Regions from separate parts of the Homo sapiens genome. Here region 2 is linked to region 1. Evidence: fine-mapped expression QTL. Tissue or cell type: whole blood. Region 1 holds a variant in brackets; the other region holds the start of a gene. All regions are shown on one strand. Distances are from middle to middle.

Region 1 (2,680 bases):
AATGTGTGTCCAGGCGCCATGGCTCACACCTGTAATTCCAGCACTTTGGGAGGCCAAGGTGGGGGGATCATTTGAGGTCAGGGGTTCGAGACCAGCCTGGCCAACATGGTGAAACCCCGTCTCTACTAAAAATATAAAAATTAGCTGGGCGTGGTGGCATATGCCTGTAATCCCAGCTAATCGGGAGGCTGAGGCGCGAGAATCACTTGCACCTGGGAGGCGGAGGTTGCAGTGAGCGGAGATCACGCCACTGTACTCCAGCCTAGGTGACAGAGCAAGACTCTCTCTCAAAAAAAAAAAAAAAAGAAAGAAAACAAAACAAAACGTGGTCCATCCATGCAATGGAGTATTATTCAGCCATAAAGAGGAATGAAGTATTGGCACAGGCTGCAACATGGGTGCACCTTGAAAACATGATGCTGGGTAGGAGAAGCCAGATGTGAAGTGTCACATCACATGCTGTGTGATTCCATCAATATGAAGAGTCCAGATCAGGCAAATCCATAGAGACAGGAAGACTCGTGGTTGTCCCGGGGCTAGGGAGGGGGCGTAAAGAGTGACTGCTCATAGAGACGGGGTATCTTTAGGGAGGATGAGAATGTTAGCTAGTGGTGGTGGTCGCACAACCTTGGAAATAAACTAAAAACCACTGAAGTATTCACTTTAAGCAGATGAATTATATGGCATGTGAATTATATCTCAATAAAGCTTACCTCAAGGATTGAGGGTCTTTGGTAGGGGCCGTATCTAAAACAGTGTGCCTGTAGCTTAAGGCCTTAGTGCACATACACATTCTTATGAATTAGCACTTCTTTGCTGCCTCTTAGGGCTTAACCACTGACGGAAACTGTCTTGTGTGCTTGCACTTTTCTGGTTTGTCTTCTGACCTCTGACTCCTTTCCTGGAAGACCAGCATCAAGAAAGCACAAGGCAGATCTGTGGTTCATCTCTGCCCTGTTGTGGGATTGGCACACCGTAGATACTAGGGAGCTTCTTTTTTTCTTTTGAGATGGAGTCTCGCTCTGTCACCCAGGCTGGAGTGCAATCGTGCGATCTCGGCTCACTGCAACCTCCACTTCCCGGGTTCAAGCGGGTCTCCTGCCTCAGCCTCCCAAGTAGCTGGGATTACAGGTGCCCGCCACCATGCCCAACTAATTTTTGTATTTTTAGTAGAGATGGGATTTCACCGCGTTGGCCAGGCTGGTTTCGAACTCCTGACCTCAGGTAATCCACCCGCCTCGGCCTCCCAAAGTGCTGGGATTTACAGGCATGAGCCACCGTGCCTGACCAGAACTTTTTTTTCTTTCTTTTTCTTTGTCTTTAGTTATTTATTTATTTATTTTAGACAGAGTCTCGCTCAGTTGCCCAGGCTGGAGTGCAGTGGTGCAATCTCGGCTCGCTGCAAGCTCCACCTCCTGGGTTCGGGTTCATGCCATTCTCCTGCCTCCGCCTCCTGAGTAGTTGGGACTACAGGCGCCCACCACCACACTCCTCTAATTTTTTGTATTTTTAGTAGAGATGGGGTTTCATCGTGTTAGCCAGGATGGTCTCGATCTCCTGACCTCGTGATCCGCCGGCCTCGACCTCTCAACGTGCTGGGACTATAGGTGTGAGCCACCGC[A/G]CCCAGCCTCTTTTTACGTTCTTTTTTTGAGTCAAGATCTCGCTCTGTCATGCGGGTTGGAGGCACTGGTGTGATCATAGCTCACTGCTCCCTTGAATTCCCGGGCTCAAGTGATCCTCCTGCCTCAGCCTCTGGAGTAGCTGGGACTACAAGTGGGCACCACCATGCCTGGATATTTTTTTGTGGAGATGGGATCTTGCTGTGTTGCCCAGGCTGGTCTTAAACTCTTGTCCTCAAGCAATCCTCCCTTCTCAGCCTCTAAAAGTGCTGGGATTACAGGGATGAGCCAACCTGTCCAGCCCTGGTGAACTTATTGATAGATCAGTTCCTTGGGAAATTCTTTTTAGAGTAGTCAGGGCATTGGATGACCTAAAACTCTTTGATTCGCAGGCTGGGAATTGGTTGGTCATGGTTAGTGTGCATGTTGCTAGGCTGGTTACCTCCCTGTGTGAGACTCAGCCAAAGAGGCACCACACCTCATGGTGACTGTAGCCCAGCTCCTGAAGCTTCTAGACCTTTCCCCCATGGCTCTCATTTGTTGTTGTTTGAAATTAGAGCATTTCTTCAGATGAAAAAATTGGGCCACACGGTGGCTCACACCTGTAATGCCAGCACTTTCGGAGGGTGAGGCGGGTAGATCACGAGGTCAGGAGTTCGAGACCAGCCTGGCCAACATGGTGAAACCCTGTCTCTACTAAAAATACAAAAATTGTGTGGTGGCCAGCTTAGTTGGGAACTATGGCTAAACATCATCCTGATTTGATCTTTTGCCGCAAGCAGGCTGGTGTTGCCATCAGATGACTGTGTGAAAAATGTGATGGCAAATGTGTTATCTGTGACTCCTATGTGCGTCCCTGCACTCTGGTGTGCATATGTGATGAATGTAACTATGGATCTTACCGGGGCTCTGTGTGATCTGTGGAGGCCCTGGGGTCTCTGATGCCTATTATTGTAAGGAGTGCACCATCCAGGAGAAGAATAGGGATGGCTGCCTGAAGATTGTCTATTTGGGGAGCTCTAAGACCTCTTCTATGAACGCAAAAAATACGGCTTCAAGAA
Region 2 (2,680 bases), 39 kb before region 1:
TCCTTCACGGACTCGAAGTGACCTTCCTGGAGGAGGTGGGCAGCTCAGACTCCACATGCTGGTGGTGCCTGAGGTCTGATGGCCTCTAATAAACTGTGTCCTATATGCCCTTGGGTGCATCTCTGCTAGGGGAGAGGCCAGCATGGGTAGCACTCCTTGCCCCCATTTTACAGATTAGGGGAATCAAGGCCTCTTTTTTTTTTTTTTTTTTTTTTTTTTTTGAGACGGAGTTTTGCTCTGTCTCCAGGTTGGAGTGCAGTGGCACGATCTCCGCTCACTGCAACCTCCACCTCCCGGGTTCAAGCGATTCTCCTGCCTCAGCCTCCCGAGTAGCTGGGACTACAGGCGCCTGCCACCATGCCCGGCTAATTTTTTTGTATTTTTAGTAGAGACGGGGTTTCAGCATGTTGGCCAGGATGGTCTCGATCTCCTGATCTCGTGATCGTCCCGCATCGGCCTCCCAAAATGCAGGGATTACAGGCGTGAGCCACTGCGCCCGGCCTCAAGGCCTCCTTCTTGCATCATCAAACACCCTGCAGCACCTACGTAAAGGCAGTTGGAGCTGGGTCGCAGCACCCGGCTGAGTCACGCCAGCCCGGCCCTCCCGGAGCTCTGCGTCCCCGATCCGGTCCTGCATAATCAAATACAGTATAACAAAGTACCGATAACCGGGACAATGGGGCTGTGTGCTCCGGACCGTGGGAGCCCGGGGCCGCCGCAGGGAGGCCGAGGGAGGAAGCCACAGGGCAGGGCAGGGCAGGGCCGGGCTTTGCAGGGGGCAGCGCTGTCCCAGGGTGAGGGGTACGGGGGCGGGATTGCAAAACCCTAGCGTGCGCCCGATGATCAGCTGGGGCCGCAGAGGTGGGCCTCGCACAGGAGGCCGCGGCTCGCTGATACTGCGAGCTGGCAAAGCCGAAGCTGGGCGGGGGTCCGGGCGGTGGGAGCCAAGTCGGATCAGGGAGTGGCTTGTAACTCGGCGGCCGATTGGACACGAAGAAGAGAGCGGGGTGGGGCTGGGAGGGTTGGGGGTCCGGAGCGGGGGCGCGGACCCAAGACCACCTGGAGCTCCGCCCGGGCAGCGCGGGGTCACGGCGGGAATTTTCGGGTCGCCGAGTGACTCAGCCCCGCAGGCTCGAAACTGCGGGCGCATGAGGTGTGCAGGTACCGGGGTGGGGGTCCCGCGCCGGAAATAGGGGCGACTGAGGGGCCGCGAGGCGGGGAGGAAACAGGGGGGCTGCGGTTCCGGGCGACACCGCCCCCGACGCGGCCGTGGAGGCGGGGCTCCCCCAGGTGGCGGGGCGGGGCAGGGCTCCCCCAGGTGGTGGGGGCGGGGCGCCGGGGAGACCCCGCCTCCCGCGCCCTCTCAGCAACCCGCACAGGGCGCACCCGGACGCTCTACCGCTCCCGCCGCAGTCGCCGGGCCATGGGCCTCGAGCCCGCCCCGAACCCCCGCGAGCCCGCCTTGTCTGCGGCGTGACTGGAGGCCCAGGTGAGGCCTGCACGGACGGGAGGCGGGCGGGTGCGGGCCTGGGCCCGGGGGAAGGGCGCGGCACGTGCCTGCGGGGCCAGGACGCCGCCCTCTGATCCCTTAACCCCCTACCCCTTCCCCAGTCTGGAGACGCCTGGAGGCCCGGCCATCCATCCCTTCCCCAACCGCTGTCTTTGTCCCGGAGACCGCCAGTGTCCTCCGTCCCACCCGGAACAGCCTATTGCCCCGCCCGCTTGGGAAGCACTCGCGCCCAAATCCCGCCGACTAACTTCTGGGGCCGCCTCTCTGTCCACTCCGATCACCTCCACGCCTCGGCACCGCCCCCTCGCAGGGTTCTAGCAAGTGACCTCACCCTTGTGTGCACACGCTCCCGGGTCTCTGCTCCCTACACTGACTCCGGCACCAAAGTGATCCTCCCTCATCTCTTCCCGCAGCTCACACCCCTTTGTCTTTCCCTAACCCTCCTCTCCCCACAACCCAAACCGGGTCACACATTGGCGGCAGGTGGGCTGGGATTCGACCATAGATGGGTTTTGTTTCACTTCTGGTTCAAAAACCTATTGACTTGGGTGATGTCTTGCACACAGGTCTTATTAGTAGGTAAGAAACAGCTGCTCCTCCACCTCCACCCCAGCCCCATGGAGCTTGCTTTTTCCAGGCCACCGTAGTCCTCACCACTGCCACTTTGCTTCGAGGTATCTGAATTTGAGACCCTTGTCCTTCCTGCGCTGACCCTCCTCTGCAGCTGCCGCCCCTCCCTGTGTCCTTCCAAGAAGTGCCACATGCACTGATCTCTTGTGTCCCCAGATGGTCATCATGGGCCAGTGCTACTACAACGAGACCATCGGCTTCTTCTATAACAACAGTGGCAAAGAGCTCAGCTCCCACTGGCGGCCCAAGGATGTGGTCGTGGTGGCACTGGGGCTGACCGTCAGCGTGCTGGTGCTGCTGACCAATCTGCTGGTCATAGCAGCCATCGCCTCCAACCGCCGCTTCCACCAGCCCATCTACTACCTGCTCGGCAATCTGGCCGCGGCTGACCTCTTCGCGGGCGTGGCCTACCTCTTCCTCATGTTCCACACTGGTCCCCGCACAGCCCGACTTTCACTTGAGGGCTGGTTCCTGCGGCAGGGCTTGCTGGACACAAGCCTCACTGCGTCGGTGGCCACACTGCTGGCCATCGCCGTGGAG

What was found. PIP is the estimated chance that this variant, and not a neighbour inherited with it, causes the effect.
Region 2: LPAR2 starts here. The variant in region 1 is fine-mapped to the expression of LPAR2 in whole blood (TOPMed, PIP above 0.99).

The regions. Positions count from the first base shown.
Region 1 is chr19:19,588,096-19,590,775 of GRCh38, reverse strand. The region is part of intron 2 of PBX4 (PBX homeobox 4); the gene reads left to right. It also overlaps the pseudogene PHF5AP1. Among named protein-coding and RNA genes, the nearest start is that of PBX4, 29 kb to the left of the region's middle. The variant A/G (reference allele first, on the strand shown) is at 1,622.
Region 2 is chr19:19,626,901-19,629,580 of GRCh38, reverse strand. LPAR2 (lysophosphatidic acid receptor 2) reads left to right here and starts at 1,361. Exons shown (of 3, transcript NM_001395660.1): 1 at 1,361-1,489; 2 at 2,297-2,680. The coding sequence starts at 2,306. GMIP (GEM interacting protein) reads left to right here. Exons shown (of 21, transcript NM_016573.4): 21 at 1-105. RefSeq lists silencers at 611-740, 1,111-1,610 and an enhancer at 51-973.